Linked DNA regions of Homo sapiens. Changing the gene in region 3 together with the main gene of any one other region gives a genetic interaction. Each region holds a gene or a part of one and is shown on either strand. Other genes may lie near its edges. The genes, in order: RAB1A, MAN2A1, EED, TBL1XR1, CAND1, MAN1B1 and RICTOR.

Region 1 (3,500 bases), on a different chromosome or scaffold from region 3:
TTTTTATAAATTTCATCTAACCCACTTTAAGACTAACATCTTAAACTCCACATTTTAAAACTCAAATTAGGCCGGGAACAGTGGCTCACACCTGTAATCCCAGCACTTTGGGAGGCCGAGGCGGGAGGATCACAAGATCAGGAGTTTGAGACCAGCCTGGCCAATAAGGTGAAACTCCGTCTTTACTATAAATACAAAAAATTAGCTGGGCGTGGTGGCGCAGCCTGTAATCCCAGCAACTTCAGAGGCTGAGGCAGGAGAATCACTTGAACCTGGGAGGTGGAGGTTGCAGTGAGCCAAGATCACACCACTACACTCCAGCCTGGGGGACAAAGCGACACCTTGTCTCAAAAAAAAAAAAAAAAAAAAAAAAACTCAAATGAGTTTGGGATACCAGATTTAAAGCTAAGCTTTGTCACTCTCAGATTTTCACATTTTAATATTGATAATGATAGTTAACATTCTCTTTTCTGTTTTCAATCTCCTAAATCAAGTATTCTTAATCTGAGGTTCATGAACAGCCTTGGTGTGAACTGCCTATAACTTTATGCAAAATGTTATATGAGTATATAGACACAAAGGGAGCAGATGCATCAAATGTAACGTGAGTATGGCTACACGACCATAAATGGGTTAAATGTAACAGTCCCAAATCAAGATACCAGAAAATATCTATAAGGAGAGTAGAAAGGACAAAGAGTAATTCCACTTAAGTACTATTATTATACAAAGGAAATACATTCAGAGAAATTAAATCCATCATTGTTCTTGGAAAACATGAATTACATAATTCACTGAGTTTCACTGTTGAAGATCACTAGTTTGAGACGCAGACTGCACAAAATGCCCTATGTAAAGACCATAGATGGCCAAGTGAGGTGGGTCACACCTGTAATCCCAACACTTTGAGAGGCTCAGGCAGGAGGATCACTTGAGCCCAGGTGTTCGAGACCAGCATAGGCAACATAGCGACATCTCATCTCTTAAAAAAAAATTAGCCAGGCATGGTGCCAGTTACTCAGGAGGCTGAGACAGGAGGATCACTAGAGTACAGGAGGTTGAGACTGCAGTGAGCCATGACTGTGCTACCACCACTCCAGCCTGGGAGACAGAGCTAGATCATGTCTCGAAAAAAAAAAAAAAAAAAACCATAGCCACGTGGCTGGCACCGAGTAAGTGCTAAATAGCACCTAGTATTATTAAAAAGTGATGTTTCCAAAAGAATGGTCCCTCTTGTGAATAAAGGCATGCATATTTAACACTACTTGTCCTAATTAGGAAATCTACAAGCATAGAACACAGTAAACTTAACTGGAACCTATCACAACCTTGGATTTAATAAAGCAGTGTAGGGTGTTCCAGCCAATTGAGCCAACCTGTCACAGAAGTACCAAGGAAAACTATTTCCTACTTCTTCTGTACCCTATCTCTCACATGTTTCAGTCAGCCAACAAACTAACACTTAGTTCTCTGGCTCCTCAGGACCATTTTTCCCCTGAATATCATTCCACCATTACCCTATTAATAATCTGCAACACTCCCAGGGTGGTTCCAAAGAAAGGCCAAGACCTAAATTTTCTTCCCTAAATTACATTCCAGATATCAAAGCAGTAATCTCAGCCCCACCTTCTATAGGGAAACAAAGGAATAGTCTAATTGCTCCCCTCTCCCTCTAAAGCGGGGGCCGGGGGGGAGTCTGGGCATTTTGCCTAATTCTCAAAGGAAAATTCCAAAATGTAGTGGCGACAAAGTGGTAAAAAGCTGATAAGCAGCCAAACGTAGTGGCTCACGCCTGTAATCCTAGCACTTTGGGAGACCAAGGCAGGCGGATCACCTGAGGTCAGGAGTTGGAGACCAGCCTGGCCAACATGGTGAAACCCCATCTCTACTAATATAAAAATTAGCTGGCCGTGGTGGTGGACGCCTGTAGTCCCAGTTACTCAGGAGGCTGAGGCAGAAGAAATGCTGGAACCCGGGAGACAGACGTTGCAGTAAGCCAAGATTGTGCCACTGCACTCCAGCCTGGGTGACAGAGCAAGACTCTATCTCAAAAAAAAAAAAAAAAAAAAAAAAAAAAAAGCTGGTAAGCTACACATTTAAAATACCTCATGCACTGGCACACTACACCCATTTTCAGTTTTTCTTCATCTTAAGACACTCAGCCAAGCGTGGGGCTCATGCCTATAATCCCAGCACTTTGGGAAGCTGAGGCAGGTGGATCTCGAGACCAGGAATTTGAGACTAGCCTGGGGCAACATATTGAAATCCCATCCCTACAAAAAATACAAAAAAAAAAAAAAAATTAGCCAGGTGTGGTGGCACGCGCTTGTATTCTCAGCTACTCAGGAGGCTGAGGTGGGAGGATCACTGAAACCCGGCTAGGAGTTGGAGGCTATAGTAAGTTATGATTGCATCACTGCACTGTAGCCTGCGTGACAGAGTAAGACCCTATATCTCAAAAAACAGACACTCAAAGTTGATTAGCAAATTTTTTTTAAATCTCAAAACGTTAAGAAGCATCTTATTTTACCCTAAACATGTTCATATATTAGGAAAGTATATAGCTTGCCACAAAAGAAAGCTATTCTGGCCAGACGTGGTGGCTCACGCCTGTAATCTCAGCACTTTGAGAGGCAGAGGCAGGTGGATCACAAGGTCAGGAGATCATCCTGGCTAACACAGTGAAACCCCATCTCTACTAAAAAATGCAAAAATTTAGCTGGGCCTGGCGGCGGGCACCTGTAGTCCCAGCTAATCGGGAGGCTGAGGCAGGAGAATGGTGTGAGCCCAGGAGGCAGAGCTTGCAGTGAGCCCAGATCACACCACTGCACTCCAGCCTGGGCAACAGAACAAGACTCCGTCTCAGACAAAAAAAAAAAAAAAAAAAAAGCAAGCTCTTCTTTACTATCCAAAATAAAACTGAACTATTCAAACTACAAATAGTGAAACCATCACATAGGTATAGTCAAAACTACCCAGAAGAGAAAACACACACATACACAACACACAGCCAACAGATTGCTATGGAAGGTGAATATAGCAGGATGTTAGCACATACGTAAATTTTTTTTTTTTTTTTTTTGAGACAGAGTCTCGCTCTGTCGCCCAGGCTGGAGTGCAGTGGCGCGATCTCGGCTCACTGCAAGCTCTGCCTCCCGGGTTCAAATGATTCTCCTGCCTCAGCCTCCCAAGTAGCTGGGACTACAGGCGCCTGCCACCACGCCCAGCTAATTTTTTGTATTTTTAGTAGATGGGGTTTCACCGTGTTAGCCAGGATGGTCTCGATCTCCTGACCTCGTGATTCGCCCACCTCGGCCTCCCAAAGTGCTGGGATTACAGGGCACATACATAAATTATTAAGATTGCTTCCAGAATTAAAAAGACCAAGATACCTGAGAAATAAAATTACTCAGAAAGCAAAATTCCCTTTAAAAGCCAAGTAGAAGCCAGGCGCGTGGCTCACACAAGTAATCCCAGCAATTTGGCTGAGGTGGGTGGAT
Region 2 (3,500 bases), on a different chromosome or scaffold from region 3:
TATACTGCATGGTATTTAATATCATAAAATTGAAAACACTATGTACTGGTTTTCTTTTTTTTAACATTTTTTATTTCTTTAACTGACAAATAGGATGTGAGGGCGATCTGGCTGCGAAATCTGTCACCCCATTGATCGCCAGGGTTGATTCGGCTGATCTGGCTGGCTAGGCGGGTGTCCCCTTCCTCCCTCACCACTCTATGTGAGCCCCTCCTGAAGCTGCATGCTCAGTCGTAGAGGATGACCATCCCTGATGGAGGACGGGTCTTCGGTCAAGGGTATACAAGGAGCTGCACTCCCCTGCTGGAACCTCCAAACGAGCTCTAACTGACAAATAAAAATTGTATATATTTATCAAGTATATCATTTTGAAAAATGCATACATTGTAGAATGCTAAATCAAGCTAATTAACATATGCATTACATCACTTATTTATTCTTTTTTGTGGTGAGAACACTTAAAATCTACTCTTTGCAATTTTCAAAACTACATGCTTTATTATTAATTATAATCAGTATGTTGTACAATAGATCTCTTGAACTTATTCCTCCTACCTAAAATTCCGTATCCTTGTTTACTGGTTTTCAATTTTTGTAACCAACCTATAGTCAGAGTACATAACACATTCAGTCACAGAATGAAATGTAGATGATATAAGGTATGTTGATGTAAAAAAACTGATGGCTGAGGGAGGGTGAGAAATGAGAAGGAAGAGAAATTGAGTGGGAGAAGGCTGAGAAGTACCAAATTCCTTGACTGACAGAGTGGGGAGTCACTTTAGGCCTAAAGTTGATGAATCAAGAAAACAAATGCAATTACATCATTGAAAGCTGTTAATGTATATCAAACAGAAATTGAATACAAAACTTTTTTAAAAACTGGGAAGAGTAGGGGGTATTGAGTTAAATTCTTCATCTCTTATAAAGGGAAACAATAGCTCAAAATTGAAACAAAAATCAAAACAGAGGTATATGCATATATTTAAAGAAGGAACCACACATGGAACATAAAGAAATGGTCAGAAGTGGGACTCAGAGAAGAGTGGACTAAAGATGGGGAAAAAAGGGAGAGGGATTCTATTGTCAATGTGTACCTTTCTATGTCATTTGAATTATTTCTATGTGCATTTATACCTTTTACATGTTTAAAAGAAAAAAAAAATCATTGGTAAAGTCCCAGCTCTCCGGACTCCTCACTGAAGCCAATGAAGTGCACCAGCAAGAACATAGGACAGGGTCAAATTTAGAGTCTTCTCTGCTCTTGGAAAAAGCATTTAATTTCTCTGGACTTCCAAAGGCACCACCTGCAAAGGAGGCCAGTGGTAAATCCATTTACATGTGAAAAATACACAAATGCATACATTTTTAAATGCAAAAAAACAAATACTTAAAAAACTCTACTTAACACTAACCTTAATACTACTCGATGAGACGCATTACCCCCATTTTGTTCGGACTCAGTATACTGCAATTTAAAGATGATACTAAAATCTGTGAGGACACAAATGGGGTGTTAGCCTGTGTCACAGCAACACAGCAAAGAAAGTGACATATAATCTTTAAAAGTGAAGAAAATGATGAAAATTAGCAAGAACTGCTCTTTGATAAGCAGAAGAGCAGGCCAGTACCTCTGCTGACAACCTGAAAGTACCCTGCCTCCAAGCTGAGCAACGCTCAGGATCCCAGAGACCGGCTGAGTTCCATCTTCTATTTACAGCTTATGAAGAAGATACCTATACCTGAGCTCTCCCTTCTCAGGACTAACTAACCCAAGCAATCAGACTGGGCTCAGAATTAAGCCCATCTGTGAATTACAGCAGATCCAAAAAGTCATAAAGTCATGGTTTTCAGTCTTGAAGCTATGGATCAATTTTGCCTAGTTCATGGCCCAGAACCTTCCTTCCCAGAGCAGTCCTACAGTGCAAAACCTTCAGGTGAAAGAAGAGAAACAAACTCATCAAGCATGTCGATGCTCTAGCATCAAAGTTCCCCAAGGATACCTGGAAATCTATGAAACATGTAGATAACACAAGTTTTAAACCACTCTCTAAAAACACAAAGTTTGACCAATGCTTATCTAATAACCAATTTACGAGAATTTTGTTTGTCTTTAATTAACTCACATCTACTTTAACAGATCTAACAATACTATTTGCCTCCAATATTAACAATAGAGAAATATAGTTTAAACTAGGGATTGGCAAACTCTGAAAAGGGCCAGAGAGTAAATATTTTAGGTTTTGTGAGCCAGTTTCTGTCTTAACTACTAAACTATGCCACTGTTGTGTGAAAGTGGTCAGAGACAATTGGTAGATGAATGACCATGGCTATGTCATGAAACATTATTAAACCACTTAAAAATGTAAAAACCATTCTTAGCACATGGCCCTATAAAGACAGGTGGCAGACAGATTTCACTCATAGTTAGCTGACTCAGCAGAGTTCAAAACCAGAGGCCTTGGAGACAAAAGAAGGAAGATTATTTGTCAAGAACTTCATTCTTTCCCTAACCTCCCACCTCCACCCCACTTTCGTAAAAAATGCTATTTAGAGGACAAAATGAAATGATCAGGAGGAAAGTCTCTATCCACTCTCCTTATTTTCCAGTTTCTTTCCCTGCTTTTTCTCATCTCAAGAAGATATTTAAAATGTTGTAACCAGAATCATCAAAATTAACAGAAATAAAAACAATACACTGAAAAGTAAACAGTCTGCCTGAGAAAACTGCAGACATTTCAAAACATTTTTGCAGACAATTTTTATACTACCTTATTAATCAATATATCTTATCTTCCTATGCTAAGAGGAATAAATCTGGATAAGTGCCAACCTGTAATTCAGCTGGAAGAAAGTAAAAGATGATCTATTTACAATGACCTGACCCTAATGTTTTTCTCAGAATACACACGTCCAATTGGAAAAGAATTTTTTTACGTTCCATTATAAGAATCTTCCATTTTTTCCTTCAACTTACCTATGAACATAATCTATCCTTGAAATTTTTTGTAACATACTACAATCTAGAATCCTAAATGTGTAAGTGAATTTCAGGCATCCTGAGAAAGAATAGAGTTCACCCATCAAAAAATGCTAATTGGCTTTTTGAGCTTCGGCCTTTTGATCAATCCTTCCTAAAACACAGAAGTGCTAACGACATGTACTGGGTATAAAGAAGAGGCCACAGCCAACACAGTTTCAACAGGGATGATTCCCACTCCCAGAGGATATTGAGAGCAGTGTCTGGAGACATTGTTGGTTCCTACAACTAGGGGTACAGAGAGAGAACAGTGATGTTGGCAGATATCGGGTAGACAGCAAGGATGCTGCTAGACACCCTACAACGCACAGGACAGCCCTTAACACGAAAGAATTCTCTGGCCCAAAATGTCAACAGCAAAGAGGTTACAAAGCCTGGATAGAGGCAGCAAATGGTAGAGTATGTCCAGTTTTAAACTAAAGTACTTTCTCTTCTTTAGAAAACAGTATGTTAGATTTAGAAA
Region 3 (3,500 bases):
TTCTTAAAACAAGTTTCTAAATATATCAAAATATGAGACTTTAAAAAAGGCAACTTCCCAGCTGCCATTCAATTTAATAAACTACATAAAGTGCTCCCTGCCAAGTTCCAACATGCGCACACACATACACACACACACACACACACACACACACACACGATGGAAGTACAGCTTAACTGCAGTTACCATACCTTAGAAAGTATCAAATCGCCTAACCATCGCACACAATCAACATAATTCCTATGTATGTCTCTGGTAGAAAAATCAGGAAAATGGATTTTCTGAGAAATAAATGGCCTGAAGGAAGAATGGAAATGTAAAAAGTTAAAAGAAAAAATTATAGTAGAATCATACTCTTTTTCATTTTTGGATTTATAAAACTTGGAAAAACAAAATGTAAGACTATTAATTCCTCTGTGTTCCTACATAACCAACCACCTTATCTATTTATTGAAAGCTAAAGTCTCATTCCACTTTTGTTTATTTTTCTCCATTATTATCCAATTTTATCTTTGTCCTATGATAGATACTTTGTTTATAAACATTGTAGTTTCCTGCGTTTTACTATATATAACCCAAAATTAATCACCTCAATTCTGGGTACCCTAACCAATAATAAAGGCCTGATCAGTTTCTCACTGAAAATATACTAAGCTACCTACTCAGTCCTTAAAATTAAGCATTAATAATCTATGAAAGTCAATATATCTACACTATTTCAAAAGATAGTCATCTTTCCAGGAACAACTAAACATCATTCCAAAGTCTGCTAAAGATACATCTACAGTCCTGCCTTGAGCAATAATTTCTGAAAATGATGCCTTACAGGAATTTAAAATTTCTTAAGTGGGGGTGGGTGCGGTGGCTCCCAGCACTTTGGGAGGCCGAGGCAGGTGGATCATCTGAGGTCAGGAGTTCGAGACCACCCTAGCCAACATGGTGAAACCCCATCTCTACTAAAAATACAAAAAAAAAAAAAAAAAAAATTAGCCAGGCATGGTGGCGGCCGCCTGTAATCCAGCTACTTGGGAGGCTGAGGCAGGAGAATCGCTTGAACCTGCGAGGCAGAGGTTGCAGTGAGCCAAGATTGCACCACTGCACTCCAGCCTGGGAAACAAGAGCAAAACTCCGTCTCAAAAAAACAAATAGAACAAAATAAAATTTCCTAGGACTTTTCCAAATAATTTCTGTATTTAGGAAACTAAATGGCAACACTGTTTTCATTAGAGATATTTGTGAGAAGAAACAAAACAAGCTGCTATTAATTCTGGAGTTATTTAACAGTACACTTAACATTCCTAATATACTCAGTTTTAAATCAGAAATAGCTGTATAAGTATAATATGCCATGAATTAGTTGTCTTAGGCAATTCATATGTCCTCTCTTTACCTTTTCCCTCAGATATGTAAAAAAGCACTTTGGATTGGAGCAACTCAAAACAATCCTTCCAATTCAAATTCTGGGATATTTTGTTGAAACATTAAAATGTTATTCGTGATCTGATATAAATTCTTAACTCTGCTATAATTATATTAATTGCTTTTTAGCTAAATACATACTATAATTGTATGGCCAAACCTCTCTCAAAGAAAAAACGAGTACAACTGTTATTTTTTGAAAACTCTGAAATATAGTTTGTATTTATTCCAGATATCTAGAAAATAATCTAAAAATATAAATTTAACATTGTCCTACTAGCTCCTGGTGTTTTAAAGGAGAAAGGTAAAACTTTTAATAATTCTTAGAGGACACTTAGGTCTGATGAATGTTAGTGCATTGAAATATTTACTGATGCTTACAAATTTAATAATCTATTAACAATCTGGCTTGATAACCAGAAAATGAATTCTAGCTCTTTGCTAAAACAAAAGTGCCAACAAAGTTAACATGCAGACATACAACGTTTATAGTGAAAGTGTTAATGACAGCCTGATAAGATTCTAAAGACAGTTACTGCATTAAGAATTGAGACATTTCAAAAATATACTAAGAAAACTGCAAAATTCCCCAACCTATAGTACCATGAAGTGAGGCTCCTGCATTTGAATTCTCTCCATTTAATCAAGTGAGCATCATTTAGGGAAAAACATTATCATGAATTAGAGCTAAGAACTCCATTGTTTAAAACTGTGGTTTACCATCTTGAATTAGAATTAGCATCATTTAAAAAAAGTTAACATTATTCTAAAGTGTCCTTTACTCTCCCTAGTCCATAATAAGCTTAAGTGATTTAAAACTTTTACATTTATAACTTAAAAGGCCAAGCATATGCATACCAAAATACAAATAAGTAAAATGTGCTACTAAGTTAAGATGACAACACAATTTAAAGGGGATTTTGAAAACTAAGCCACAAACACTGCAAATAAAGGACTTCTTAAAGGGGTGAATTTTACAGTATGTAAATTGTCCCTTAAAGTTAAAAGAAGGTCTTCTAAACTCATTGTTGGGGCTTATATAGCAATTTTGGGAAAAAATAAAACTTATATTCAATAGCACAACATAGCAAATTGTTTCAAATACCACAACTGTTACCTGTTAGTTTTATTTGGATTATAATCATAAGATTCCTTAATTGCATTCATCATTCTCTTTGAATTGATCCTCCAAAGTTTAAGAGAATGATCCATACCACAGGACATTATTTTTTCACCCAAAAGATCATAATCCTGTATGCAAAACCAAAAAGTTTTATATAAATTACAGCTCCAAATTATATTTATCCAATTTTTGCCTAATGTGCAACATAGTGAAAACTGTATTTCAAATCACAATACAAACTACATTTTGGGTTTCATCTAAATAGGCCATAAATCAGAGTTTACTACTTTCAAGATTTACAGCTTTAATTAGTTTGTCAACATCGGAATATAAGAGCATTTACAATGTATAAACCAAGAAAAAATTACTTAAACTTAGTTTTATCTATTCAATTACACTAAAATATTTATTTTGCTTATTTTGAAGGTAAATTGAATACTAAGTTAAAATAATTATTCTGACACAAAGAGCTGAATAGTGATATTACTTTTCCTATCCAACCTCAACCAACCAATGAAACTGACATGTGCATGTGAAAATACATGAATCCTTAAAGAGCTGACATCTTACTTTATAATTCTAAGTCAAAATATTTTGAAGTTAGTTTTAGAGTTCACTTTTAAGTGAATTTTTAAAAGTCTAATAAAAAACAGATTTTAACTTTTTTCATTTGCTGTTTACTAATTTTTAACAGGCATGTAACAGATCATCTATTGTAACAACCTCATTTCATAGGCAGACACTAAGGCCCAGAGATGCTATTTAATTTAGCAAAAGGCACATAATGAGTAATGAAAATCTCACACACCTATCCACCTCCAGTGAACTCCTGTATTACACAGAAGAGCTACATACTGTCTCCTGCTCTCATTCTAAGAAATAACAGTAGAGAGTTCTATTGAAGGAGTATATTTTCCTTACTAACCTAGATACTATATGTTAATCCAGCCTTTGCATT
Region 4 (3,500 bases), on a different chromosome or scaffold from region 3:
AGCATGCAGAAAAAGTAGCATAGGGTTAACATTTCATTGATGACAAAGCACTTTGGTACAGCAGAGAAAAGCACCATAAAACTACCATCTAAAGTGTCTTTTCCTCCACTGTATTTTTTCAAATGAATATATTGGTAAAACAGTAAACTTTGATCTGATCTGCTACGGATTATACTAGGTAATAAATCTAATCCATTGTAAAGTGTTAACTATGAAATTAAAAATAATCCCTTCTATTACTGTTCAAATTAGTTTCAGCTTTCCCTCAAGCTTATAAGGATTCTAATCCTTAGGAGTCCAACCCTTTTTGGAAAAGTATACAATGCAGGATATTACTAATAATCTATGCCATGCAATAAAAGTTAACCCCTTGAAAATGAAAGCATGTCAGTTCTAGCAACTGCAGTGGCTTATTTCTAATAAAACATAAAACTATGCTTGAATTTATTTCTGTTTAAGGAAATAAACAGGAAAAATAGAAGACCTAGAGAGTGTAAATTCTTAAAAAAAAAAAAAAGAAAATATGCTCAATGATTCTTTTTAAAAAGTCTCTAACTCTAAAGGAGTTGGTATTAATTAAAACTAGAAGGTGTCTAGTTGTTTTTCTTATAAAGTTTGTAGTAACAACTAGCTAAGAGAGAAAATGATTCAACTATAATTGGCTTGTTGTGAAGCAAAAAAAGGTCACCGAGAAGTTGAGCCTCCTGCCCTAATCTTCAACACATCTACACATTGTTTTGTGCTCAACCGTGTGGCTAACCAAACAAATGTTATCTAAGGTCTCTTTTTCAGCTTCTGTGAAATAACGTCTTTTAAATACAATATTTATTTTTCAAAAGAATTAAAAATTACAATCCCTTAGCTGATTAGATGCTCTATTATACTTTAATAAAAATAGTAAATAACCCCTTCATTTAAAAAAATCTTATCTCCTGCAAGAAGTAATAAAAATAGTAAAATTTGTAATTTTATTATGGGCTTAAAGTATATATCTTGGGAAACAATACGTTTATGAAAAACAGTGGTTTGGGTTCTGATGGCAGTTATTAATCAGTAACACCAGTATGGGAGAGAATGAATGTGTTATAGGTTATGAAGGCTAACTTGGAAAAAAAGGTTTATTCTACAATAGAACACTGGAGAAGTAAAAGCAATTAAAATGTAAACAAACTGTAAACAAGAAATACCATCCCTCTCTCTTTACCTGACTAGTAAATAGTCTATATAAACTACATAGACATCAAAGGTTTTATATATGTACACAGCCAACATAATATCAAAATATATTTTATTCTGGACCTCTTTCAGATCTGATTCAAATTACAGTTGTCAAAGCAATACAATGCAAAGGGGAACTGCAACAACAACAACAACAAGAAATGTGCCTAGAAAGGATAAAAGGGTCACTGGGGACAAATCATTGTGATGTGGAACTAAAATACGTCGTAAGTGTAATTAACATGGTCCAGGACAGCACAGAACATCTACATCAGTCTTCCTTACACAATAATCATGAAAACTGAACAATGAAGTTCTTTAACATGTACAAAAACCTGTCATGGGCTGGTTTACACTTTTACAACAGTTTTAAAGTTAACTGGATAACTAAAGAAATGATGCAGACATTTTAATCCAGTGCTATAGGTAGGCTCACAGAATTAGACCCAAAGGATTTGTAAAAACAAAAATGGAAACAGTATAGCTACAATGTCAAAGTCAGGAAAGAAGAAAATTTACTTCCGTATTCAAGGATTACAGAGCTACAAATGCAGTCTGTGTGTTTTTGTTTGTAATGAGATGGATAAGTACATCAGACTAGATACAACATGCAGAATGTTTTCCTGAACTTATCCGGAAATTCCAAAGAAAACATCATGAAACAGCTTACAAAAAAAAAAAAAATATATGCCCTAGTTATTCACCCTGCTTCAACACTGTCAACGTAAAGGCAGAAATAAAGCAAGCTATCAATACCTCAGAACTACTGATATAAGACATCAAATTTCTAAATCAGTGTATTAAAAAAGTGAACACTTCCTCTTTCTTCTCTCTTCTACATTTAACTAGAATCATGTTTAAAAAAAACTGATATTAAATGTGACACTTCAGAGCTACTACTGGAAGGAGTAATTCATAACTTCCCTACCCTCCTTCCATCCCTGCTGATTCAGGAGAAGGGGGAAAAAACAAAGAAAACAAAACGAAAAACCAACCAGGGTCTCTTGTAGATTTGCTGCTATTCCACAAAATGTTGGCATTTGCTGCCATGCCACAATGTTGGTCCACTGAAATAGGATTTCTGCGGAAACTGTCAACAGTAGTAATTCACCATATGCAAGTACCATCCTTATCATGCGAGAATAATCACAGGTTCTGTAGAAATGTACAATGTACTTAAGATAATGAAAATTGTAGCGCTGCATTTGAGATTTATTTCTCTACTTAGCTAGTAAAACTTGTCATTTTTGCTCACTTAAGTATGATCATTTGTGATTCCTTTAAATAGCAAAAATGCACAGTCCTCTTTAGGCCTCTACTCAATAATAGTTTACATTACTCTTAACAAAATCATTCTACATAAACAGATAGCTCCTTAAAAATAGTACTCTCTCATTAAATCTAATTTGACAGAAAGAAGTTTAAGGGAAAAAGGAGTGCTTTGTAAGTGAAAAAGTACAAATCTTTGGCCTTTCTCTTGACATTTTCGTATGTCAAAAAGCAAAAAACCTTCATGTATTTCAATCTAGTGATTACTTTTTGCACCATAATTTGTTTTTTACACCACAAAAGGAGGCACTTTCAGTATCTGTAAAAGGTATTTAATCCTAAAACATACTTACCTAGAGAATAATTAAAACAGAATTCAATACAATCTAGTATCTATTAGGAAATTAAGAGTTATCACTTCTAAAAGTCATTTGAAAGTCAATGATGTTATCTGGTCAATGGCAGGAAATGGGAACTGGAACAAATATAAGAACTTATGGGATTTCCTACACGGAGACAAAAAAAGATATTCCTTTATGTTGTTTAAAAGTGGCAGCTGCTCTTTCTTTATTCCATTTTAATCAATGAGTATTGATTCAAGTTTTCCTTTCTATTTTTCCTTATGATAAGTTTCTTACAGTAGCTTATACAACAACAAATAGCATAGAAAAACTACTGGATTCAATTGATCATCAGGAATAAGTTCTCAGAAAAACACAGGCGGAAAAATAAGCAAGAATCCCAAATACAGAACTTTACAAGCTGTGAAACTTGGTCTCTTGCAATCATGTTACTGCTCAAATTAGAGACAATCTTATTGCTGTCTATTGGAGCAGCATCGTGGCACATCAGCAGGCAATGATGATGTTGAGAACAGCAGCAAAAATAAACAATCGTATGCTCATGAAGAACCCAAGCCTACAAAATGGATACCTTTCAGAAAAGTATATACTTAAAAGACCCAAGACGTCAGGATAATAAAGCTCTGTATTTATAATCTTTTATATGTCCTA
Region 5 (3,048 bases), on a different chromosome or scaffold from region 3:
CTGAGGGCCACACAGGGACCATCTCTTCGTGTGCATAGGGTGCCAATTCACCTCAGCCTTTAGCCACAGACCAAATACTTCATCCAGATAAGGGGTAGATGATAAGAACCTCAAATGGGATACTTAAAGCCCAGAAAACTTTGTAACTGGGCCCTTGAGCCACTTGCTCAGGCCCACTCCCACCCAGTAGAGTGCTTTCTCGCTTTCATAAAATTCCTGCTTTTGCTGCTTCATTCCTGCATTTCATTCCTCTGCTACTTTGCGCGTTTTGTTCAGTTCTTTGTTCAAAATGCCCAGGACCTGGACAATTCGTAGTCAAGCCCCTCCACTGGTAACACTAGATACATTAATAATTTGCCCAAAGTCCCACTCTCAAGAAGTGGTAGAACCAGATTTAAACCCAGGTTTAGAGCCTGAGCTTTTACAACTATATTATAATGTTTCTCAGTAAAGCATTACCAAAGACCAAGAAATAACAGATGCTTCAAGATGGCAAAAAATCTGATGTGCTTATATTTATTGTGTCAAAATTCTACTGAAATGACAGTAAATATTTTTTAAAAGGAATGAATCCAAAACCATATATAGAGCAAGAAGGAAGGCCCAAGAATTTTGGAAATTCTGACAAATTTCTAGAAGGCAGAAAGCTGGGGGCATCAGAGTACAGAAAGTCACAAACCAGACAAGGAGGGGTTACTTTTAGTCCAGACAAGTGACTCCAAGCTGAGTCTTTAGATACAGAAACTGGAACTACGTTGGCAGTATTCAGTTTGACATTAAGGGCTGTTTGTGAACAGCTGGACTAGTCGGCCCTTCCCATACCCTCAGTAACCATCAGCAATGGTATGGAGGAGGGGAATAGCAGTATCTGCACCAACGTTAACAGACAGACAGGTGCTTTTAAAAGGAATTTGACAATATTACGTGCCTGAAAATGGAGTCAGGTTCCAAACATGGGAGTTGGCCCTTGGATTATGCCCTCTTCATTACTTGTCCAGGGAAGACTTCCTGGAGTCCTTGACCTAACCTACAAGATGAAAAGCAGCCAGCTAAGTAAAACAAAAGAGAAGTCAAGTCATTCCAGGCAAAAGGCATAACTTGACCTTGAGCAAACTTGAGAAGGCAAGGGAAATATTTTATAGTTGTCAGAAGAAAAAGTTAGTCCTAGTTGTGAGAGATGCTGAGGCTGGTGGGGCAGGCAGTAACCAGATCTAGTTTGTACTTATCCTATGGGCAAAAGAGAGACAGTGAAGGATGTAGTGCAAAGATGAAATGGTCAGGACCATTGTTTTGCAGCTGTGTAGAGGAAGGACTGGGAATTAATGCCTTCTGGGTATTTTAATGTGGTGGTTTCCAAGGTGTGGCCTTGGGGAACAGCATTAGAACCTGGGAACGTCATAGAAATACAAATTACTGGTTTACTACAGCCTACTGAACCACAGCCTCTGGGTGTAGGGCCCAGCGATCTGTTTTAATAAGTCTTACAGGTGACTGTGATGCACACTCATTTGAAAACTATTCTTCTAAGAGCTCATTCCTCAAGACATTTCATCTCCTTTATGAATTGTTTCTGTCTCACTCATGTTGAATGGACCATACCCTCAATTATTAACCCCCAGTATCCCGTGTATACCTCTCATACAGCAGAATTTTATGGTGCTTCCTTATGTCAGTCTTCCCATGATAATCAGCAAGCTTCTTCATATCAAGTACAGTCTCAACAGCTTTTGTAGCCCTGGCAGCACCCTAAGCGCGTAATAAATTGGCTTGCTAAATGAATGAACACAAAAATAACGATTAGCAGGCATTTGCCGCAGTCCAGTCAATAGATAAGGAGGAAAAGAGGTCTTAAGCCAAAAGCATGAGAGATATTTAGGAAAGAGATATTTAGGAGATGGGCATGAGAGATATTTAGGAAATAAAAGGGACAGAATGCTAGTAAGAGTTAACAATTATATTACTTAGTATGTCCCAGGTACTGTTTTAAGTGCTTTATACAATGTTCCTATTTAATCCTCACAATAACCCTATAAGGTGCAAATATTTTAATTCCCATTTTATAGATAGGGAAAGTTGAGGTTAAATTATTTGCCCAAGTCTAACAGCTAACAGCCAGGATTCAAACTAATATGATATATGATGTCTATCTATCTGTAGAGTCCTTGTTTTTTTTGAGACAGGGTCTCGCTTTGTCACCCAGGCTGGAGTGCAGTGGTGCATGCAATCTTGGGTCACTGCAACCTCCACCTCCCAGGTTCAAGCAATTCCCCTGCCTCAGCCTCCCACACAGCTGGGACTACAGGCATGTGCCACCACGTCTAGCTAATTTCTTTGTGTTTTTTTAGCAAAGACGGGGTTTCGCCATGTTGGCCAGACTGGTCTCGAACTCTTGACCTCAAGCAATCCACCTGCCTTGGCCTCCCAGAGTCCTTGTTCTTTATCATATTCTGCCTCCAAACTCTTGCTAAGTGAGGCTTTTAGATTTCCAGTTTGAATGACTGGGTAAATGGGATGCCATCAGCAAAGAGACAGGAAAAACCAGGGCAAGATGATGACTTCAGCTTTAGATATGCTGTGTTTGAGATACCTTTATGAGATGTATAGCAGGTGGTTGGATATAATAGTCTGAAACAGGGGCATGGACTGGGCTAGATGTATAGATTAAGAAACTGGCTGGGGGACGTGGCTCACGCCTGTAATCCCAGCACTTTGGGAGGCCGAGGCGGGTGTATCACCTAAGATCAGGAGTTTGAAACCAGCCTGGCCAACATGGCAAAACTCCATCTCTACTAAAAATACAAAAATTAGCTGGGCATGGTGGCACACGCCTGTAATCACAGCTACTTGGGAGGCTGAGGCAGGAGAATAGCTAGAACCCGGGAGGCAGAGGTTGCAGTGAGCCGATATTGCGCCACTGCACTCCAGCCTGGGAGACAAAGCAAGACTCCATCAATCTCAAAAAAAAAAAAAAAAAAAAAAATTAAGAAAGAAAAAAAAAGAAAAAAGAAATCAACAACATGTGGCTGGGCAAGGAGGCACTTGCAATAA
Region 6 (2,849 bases), on a different chromosome or scaffold from region 3:
GGAAGGCCCCGCAGACACACTCACCATCTTGGCACTGAAGCGGCCGTGGGCAAGCTCCCCCACAAAGGTGAGCTTACTGGGCTCGGAGTGCCGCAGCAGGTGCGTTCTGACACCCTCGATGGCTTCCACGTAGTCTTCCAGCAGCCTGTGGACACCAGCAGTCATCTCACTCTACCAGGACGGTGCATCGGCTCCCGTGGGGCACCAGGGACAGGCACATCCTGGGCCCACACAAGTACAGCAGGCCTGGCCCTTGCCGGACAGAAGGTGCCACCCTGCACAGCCCATGGCCCTCAGTGAAGATGCCCCCCTCACCCCCCCAGAGGCCACGGTGAGAGGTGAATGAATACGCCCTCCACATAAATGCCTGGGCCAGGCCTGGCACGGCTGCGGTTTCCTGACACACAGTGTGGCGGGGGGCAGCAGGAGCGGGGGCCGTGGGAGCTGGGGGCAGCAGGAGTGGGGGGCTGCGGGAACGGGGGAGCCGCGGGAGCTGGGGGCAGCGGGCCGGGCCTCACTGTGTCTCCTGCTTCCCGCCCTGGATCCACTGCTTCAGCAGGTACTCATAGTAGCTGTCGGCCCTGGCGCCCAGCGTGAATACGCCCAGGTGGGTGAAGAGGCCACTGTGGGTATTGATGAACATGGGCACCAGCCCATCCTTCTTCCCAGACAGGCCGTGGATGTGCTGTGTCACCTTCTCCACTGCCTCCTGCGGCAGAAAGGGGGATGGTGGGTTTACTGGCCAGGGCCGAGCTGCAGGGTGAGCTGTAGAGGGGCTCTGTGAGCTCTGCCTCCCCTCGCCCCAGCACCGACTGACTCCCAGCAGAGAGAGCTCTGTGCCCAGCCCACAGCTGTCCTTGCCCACATGGCTCCTGGTGGCCGTACCACACAGCCACACAGCCACCAGTGCAACGCACCTGAATGTCACTGCTCCCAACGGGTGGTCACCACAGAGCTGACCCATCTTCAGGATGGCTCTCATCCCTTACTCGAAGGGACAGCATCTGACAACCACAGGCACTGTCCTCACGAGAGCCCACCAGGCCTGGCCGTCAGCCATGGCTCTGGAGGGACGGCAAGTGTGCCTGCCTTCTGAGCCCAGTGTTGCTCCTGATGATATTAAACGCCTCGGCTCCACGCCCTCCTGGTGAGCTCCTACTCATCCTCCAAGTCACAGCCACCCTCAGCTCCTCAGGGCTTACGCCCAGCTGGCAGCACCAGGCGTCCTGGCCCACAGAGGGGCACAGGGTACCGGGATGTTAGGGCACGCCCAGCAAGGGCGCTCCGGGTCTCTACCCAACGCAGACACCCAAACCCATGCCCAGCACCTTCGAGGCCTGGCTGCCTATCCCTGTGTACCGGCAGCAACCAGAGGCCCTGGTGACATGGGGGTGCCCATGGGGGCCTGGGGCCATTTTCTGAGCTGCAGTGAAAACGCCTTCTAAATGTCTGCATGGGAGCCTCACGTGGATGGCGTGTGGGAGCCTCACGTGGATGGTGTGGGCTGCACTTCTCACCACAAGTGGTCACAGTTGCTCTAAAGAGGGCTGTGTCCAGCTCATGATTAAAAACAGGGACTCGAACATGAGGCCAAATACATGAGCAACAATAAACTGACCAGCTGTGCTTCATGAAAATGACAATCTGTTATCTATCAAAATACACCATTAACAAAGTAAAAAGAGGCCGGGCACAGTGGCTCACACCTGTAATCCCAGCACTTTGGGAGGCCAGTGGGTGGATCACCTGAGGTCAGTTCCAGACCATCCTGGCCAACATGGCAAAACCCCATCTCTACTAAAAATACAAAAAAATAACGGGGTGTGGTGGTGGGTGTGGTCCCAGCTACTCGGGAGGCTGAGGCAGGAGAATCGCTTGAACCCGGGAGGTGGAGGTTGCAGTGAGCCGAGATCGCGCCACAGCCTCAGGCAGGTGTGTGCACCCACACTCACAACACCCAAAACACAGCCTCAGGCAGGTGTGTGCACCCACACTCACAACACCCAAAACACAGCCTCAGGCAGGTGTGTGCACCCGCACTCACAACAAAGCAGAGCCTCAGGCAGGTGTGTGCACCCACACTCACAACGGCCAAAACACAGCCTCAGGCAGGCGTGTGCACCCGCGCTTACAGCAACCAAAACAGCACAGTCCTGGTGTCCACCAGAGGAGAGAGGATTAAACAAAAAGTGGCCTAGCCACGCAGCAGATATTCAGCCTGAAAAAGGAATCTCTGAAGCATCTTTCGCGTATGAAGCTTAAAGACGCTGAGTGAAAGGAGCCCAAATAAAAGGATAAATCAGCCGGGTGTGGTAGCTCACGCCTGTCATCCCAGCACTGTGGGAGGCCCAGGCGGGTGGATCACGAGGTCAGGAGTTTGAGACCAGTCTGGCCAACTTGGTGAAACCCTGTCTCTAATAAAAACACAAAAATTAGCTGGGCGTGGTGGCAGGCGCCTGTAATCCCAGCTACTTGGGAGGCTGAGGCAGGAGAATCACTTGAACCTGGGAGTGGAGGTTGCAGTGAGCTGAGATCACGCCACTGCACTCCAGCCTGAGTGACAGAATGAGACTCTGTCTCAACAAACGAAAACAAAAAAAGGACAAATCGTGTGTGACTGCACTCACACGAGGAACTCCACACAATGAGGTCCAGGAAGAAAAACCTGAACAGTGTTTTTCAGGGACTGGGGAGGGACATGAAGGGTCACTGTGTGATGGGAGAGCTTCAGTTTTAAGATGAAAAGGGCTCTGGAGATGGAAGTGATAGCTGCACAACAGCATGAATGTGTGTAACACCACTGACCTGTACTCCTGCAACAGCGTGAATGTAACACCACCGACCTGCAT
Region 7 (3,500 bases), on a different chromosome or scaffold from region 3:
ATTAAATAACTACCAATGATGATGATAAATAGCTAACTTTTATTGAGTGCTTAATATGTGCTAAAGTATTCTAACATATATTGTTGACATATAAGTACCTGACATATATTAATCCACTTAAATAAATGTAAATGAATAATTTAAAACTAAGGAAAGTTGTTTAGAAGCATTTGGTCCAACCACAAAAATTATAGGTACAAAATTTTTTTGCAGCAAATACTGTGTATCTTTTAAAAGTAAAATCTAAACTGTTCACTTTGACTAGCTTGATATAATCTAAATATGGTATAGAAATCCCTGCTGAGTCATGAGGACCAAGTATTTCATTTAGTGTTTATTAGGTTCCTATTTAATAATCACAGCTACTTAAAGTGAAAATAATTTCACTGAAATTTTCATTTATCTTTTTAAAAAAATAATAAAGAGGTCAACTTTTGGAGCCTTAAATTGACCTACCTGAAAAGGTTGTTTGTTATTGTAGGTCTTAAGCTCCTGATTCCCCCGACATGCTTCTTTTTAAAATCGATCCTTGCAGAAGCGAGAAATAAATAAAAAAAAGCTTGTGACTTGTATGTCCTTTGCAAAGCATGTATGTTTATTTTCAGGGCCTATAGGATTTTCTTCCCCCCTCGCAGCTGCAAGAATCCATTTCAAGTCATATCGGGTAACAAGGAGCTTATAGCCTACCATAGTAAACAATTATAATAGGTCAGTGATGAGGCTCACATAGTGTAAAACCTGGCTAACATTTTGTATTTAAATTTGTTAAAATGCAACCATTATTGGTCACTTCTAAACATATATTTGCTTACCTGCTTGGTGTTAATCTGGACTCAAAACTGTTGGCCTTCATGGTGATGGTATCAGTAAATAGCACATCTTTTGCTGGAGATGCCAAAGCTTCAGAGTGAGATAAGGATGGATGCATTCTTTGTTGCTGTAGTCTTTTCAGTGTAGCATAGCCAAAAGCATCTCTAGAACTTGTGTAACTAAAGTTACAATCTGCTAGACTTTTAATTGTAGCAATAGAGGGTGCTTTAAGGGACTGTGCTCTTCTAGGAAGCGTATGAGAAGAACCTGGAGGCACCAGGGACACCGAATTTGATTTGGAGAGAGACAGATGGTTAGACTGTGGCGTCAAATAGTGGCTTGTCTTAATAGTTTTAGTACTTACCACAGTACTCATGCTTCCACAGTCTGTGTCCATAGTTGTAGCATCTACACCTACTGTCTCTCGTGAAGGACTTGAGCTCATTGAACTTATGCCACTTGTTGTAGTGTCTGTATTGAAACTTTGGCTACGTATCTTCATATGTGAGCTCGTTGAACTTTCTACTACTAACCTCTCTCGGCTTGTATTTTCTCTGTGATTCTCTGTACCAAAATTCTTGGTGAATTTTAAGTCATTTTCTCCAATGCTTGGTGTACTACCAGTGTCTTCAATGTGCTTATTCCCCATAAATGAAGTCTCTAATTGTAATGTTTTCTGTACAGTGGATATGGGTGTAAAATCATCACTATGATTAAAATCAACACTGGGCTCCGTAAGTGTTCTGATTCGCCTGTTGCTTGTCTTACTTTCAGATGATAATTTCCCTCCTTTTGGATCACTGCTACTACGATGTTTTTTGTTAGGCAAAGTAAGCGAATTTAAGATACGATTCTTCACAAGTTTACTAGAAGCAAAGAAAGGGAATGAATTTTTATCCTTTATGGGTCCAGATCGGTCATAAAATGTTGGCTCTGTATCTTCATTGATATCAAGGAAAAATGTGCTAGTAGAGCTGCTGCCAAACCGGTCATCCTCCAATATGAACATACCTATGATTGAAGGATCAATTAATAAAAACACATATAAAATGACAAATTCATGATAACTATTAGTGACATCACATTTCAGGAAATTTTTTTTTAGTCATCTAGAGGAAAAAATTTAAAAATAAACGGTTAAACCATTCAGCTACTTGAAAATATCTTTCTTGAAACCCAGAGTTTGGACTTGAATAAAATGTAAAATTATGTAATTTATGAGAATCTCCTGTTATTTCCAAAGAAAAATTATTATAAGACCCACTATGGCACAGGTTACATGAAGTTTCTTTTGATTCTCCAAATATTCAGGATGAAATTAAAGGGAAAAAGGAGACTTGGCCATGGATGCTTACTCAATTACTACAGATTCCTAGTGGTTCTTCTTTAAATTACTATAAGCAGGAGAAATTCACCTTGTAAGAAATGAATTCCCAATCTTAAAATATACTTACAGAGAACCAAGTGGTAACATTATAAATTCATGTTTAAATTATGTTTATTTCTCATTTTACCTTAGATACTAAGAAACTCATTAAATTTAGTGCCCAATTCTACTAGAAGACGCAACCCAAGTGAGTGCCTAATGACATCTATACGATTTTTCTTTTATTAACTTTTCTGTTGAATAATTACAAATACTTCAAATATATTTTCAAAGAAGGTAAAAGAAAATCCTAAGTGAATTTGCATACTGCATTACCATTTCTATATTTTGTCAATTCTAAGATGCACACTTTTCACATTTAATCCCTTCTATTTTCACACAGAATCTGATTCTAAAATCAATATGCATCTTGTAGTATGTCCTAGTTTAATAGGCAGCACTTCTTCTTTCTTCTTCTTTTGTGGTACATAAAATATTGGCATATTTCATAATTCATGGCATCTCAGATTTGGTGAAATACACAGTCTGATAAAGCTGACACTATCTTCTTAAAAGGAAGAACCATGCCTTAAATTTTGTACACCTAACACCACTTAGCACAGGACTTAAAACCACAAATCATTTTATATATAACTATTTTTGTTACTCTATTAACAATTTCACTATTTTAAAATTTAGTGCTTCTCTCAAAAATGAAGATGTGAATATAATATCAGTTAAAAATATATTCTGGCTCAACAATCTCAGTATCTGAAAAATGAGTAAAAAGATTAAATAAAGAAGGTAGACAAATAAATACTTGTTATATTTGTTTCTTTTCTGTCAAAAAAAGGAGGACTGGTTCTTCTGGCACATGGCTTATTACATAACTTTGTAGGAATCCTCAAAAGCTACTTAGAATATAAGGAGAGAGAAAAATGTAAGCTGGTGATTATACTCTTTGTTATGAAAATATACACATTCTCCAAGAGGCTATTATTGCCAAATAATTATCTTAGACAAAAGCAAATTACAAATGTAACAAATACATTTAAATTCTAAAATTCAAATATAAATGTTAACATTGGCTAACTTTATATGAACCTGTCAGGATACTCACTCGATGGCACAGATTCACTTTCACTATTATGTCTAGAGCTGGTTGACTCCGAGTTCAAACTTAGAGTGCTTGGGATAGATGAAAGTTCATTACAGAGTTGTTCCACATCATCTGGAACCACTGGCCACAGATGTTTGCGACTATGCCTCACAGCATCCCAGTTGTGACATTTTAGAATATCACAGCCTTGTTTGGTTTTAGCTA

Evidence for each region.
Region 1: changes in EED (region 3) and RAB1A together harm fitness more than expected from each alone (negative genetic interaction), as found in Homo sapiens cells (one large-scale study listed by BioGRID).
Region 2: changes in EED (region 3) and MAN2A1 together harm fitness more than expected from each alone (negative genetic interaction), as found in Homo sapiens cells (one large-scale study listed by BioGRID).
Region 4: changes in EED (region 3) and TBL1XR1 together harm fitness less than expected from each alone (positive genetic interaction), as found in Homo sapiens cells (one large-scale study listed by BioGRID).
Region 5: changes in EED (region 3) and CAND1 together harm fitness less than expected from each alone (positive genetic interaction), as found in Homo sapiens cells (one large-scale study listed by BioGRID).
Region 6: changes in EED (region 3) and MAN1B1 together harm fitness more than expected from each alone (negative genetic interaction), as found in Homo sapiens cells (one large-scale study listed by BioGRID).
Region 7: changes in EED (region 3) and RICTOR together harm fitness less than expected from each alone (positive genetic interaction), as found in Homo sapiens cells (one large-scale study listed by BioGRID).

The regions. Positions count from the first base shown.
Region 1 is NC_000002.12:65,120,107-65,123,606, forward strand, and holds part of RAB1A (ras-related protein Rab-1A), read right to left. Parts: intron 1-3,500. UniProt on the Homo sapiens protein: The small GTPases Rab are key regulators of intracellular membrane trafficking, from the formation of transport vesicles to their fusion with membranes.
Region 2 is NC_000005.10:109,696,427-109,699,926, reverse strand, and holds part of MAN2A1 (alpha-mannosidase 2), read right to left. Parts: intron 1-3,500. UniProt on the Homo sapiens protein: Catalyzes the first committed step in the biosynthesis of complex N-glycans. It controls conversion of high mannose to complex N-glycans; the final hydrolytic step in the N-glycan maturation pathway.
Region 3 is NC_000011.10:86,265,253-86,268,752, reverse strand, and holds part of EED (polycomb protein EED), read right to left. Parts: intron 2,671-3,500; coding exon 2,537-2,670; intron 298-2,536; coding exon 192-297; intron 1-191. UniProt on the Homo sapiens protein: Polycomb group (PcG) protein. Component of the PRC2/EED-EZH2 complex, which methylates 'Lys-9' and 'Lys-27' of histone H3, leading to transcriptional repression of the affected target gene.
Region 4 is NC_000003.12:177,019,483-177,022,982, forward strand, and holds part of TBL1XR1 (F-box-like/WD repeat-containing protein TBL1XR1), read right to left. Parts: 3' UTR 1-3,500. UniProt on the Homo sapiens protein: F-box-like protein involved in the recruitment of the ubiquitin/19S proteasome complex to nuclear receptor-regulated transcription units. Plays an essential role in transcription activation mediated by nuclear receptors.
Region 5 is NC_000012.12:67,317,406-67,320,453, reverse strand, and holds the end of CAND1 (cullin-associated NEDD8-dissociated protein 1), read right to left. Parts: 3' UTR 501-3,048; downstream 1-500. UniProt on the Homo sapiens protein: Key assembly factor of SCF (SKP1-CUL1-F-box protein) E3 ubiquitin ligase complexes that promotes the exchange of the substrate-recognition F-box subunit in SCF complexes, thereby playing a key role in the cellular repertoire of SCF complexes.
Region 6 is NC_000009.12:137,103,985-137,106,833, reverse strand, and holds part of MAN1B1 (endoplasmic reticulum mannosyl-oligosaccharide 1,2-alpha-mannosidase), read right to left. Parts: coding exon of another isoform or gene 2,469-2,849; exon of another isoform or gene 1,858-2,468; intron 710-1,857; coding exon 519-709; intron 146-518; coding exon 25-145; intron 1-24. Other genes in the region: uncharacterized protein LOC124902313, read right to left, coding at 2,624-2,849. UniProt on the Homo sapiens protein: Involved in glycoprotein quality control targeting of misfolded glycoproteins for degradation.
Region 7 is NC_000005.10:38,948,900-38,952,399, forward strand, and holds part of RICTOR (rapamycin-insensitive companion of mTOR), read right to left. Parts: coding exon 3,297-3,500; intron 1,822-3,296; coding exon 813-1,821; intron 529-812; coding exon of another isoform or gene 457-528; intron 1-456. UniProt on the Homo sapiens protein: Component of the mechanistic target of rapamycin complex 2 (mTORC2), which transduces signals from growth factors to pathways involved in proliferation, cytoskeletal organization, lipogenesis and anabolic output.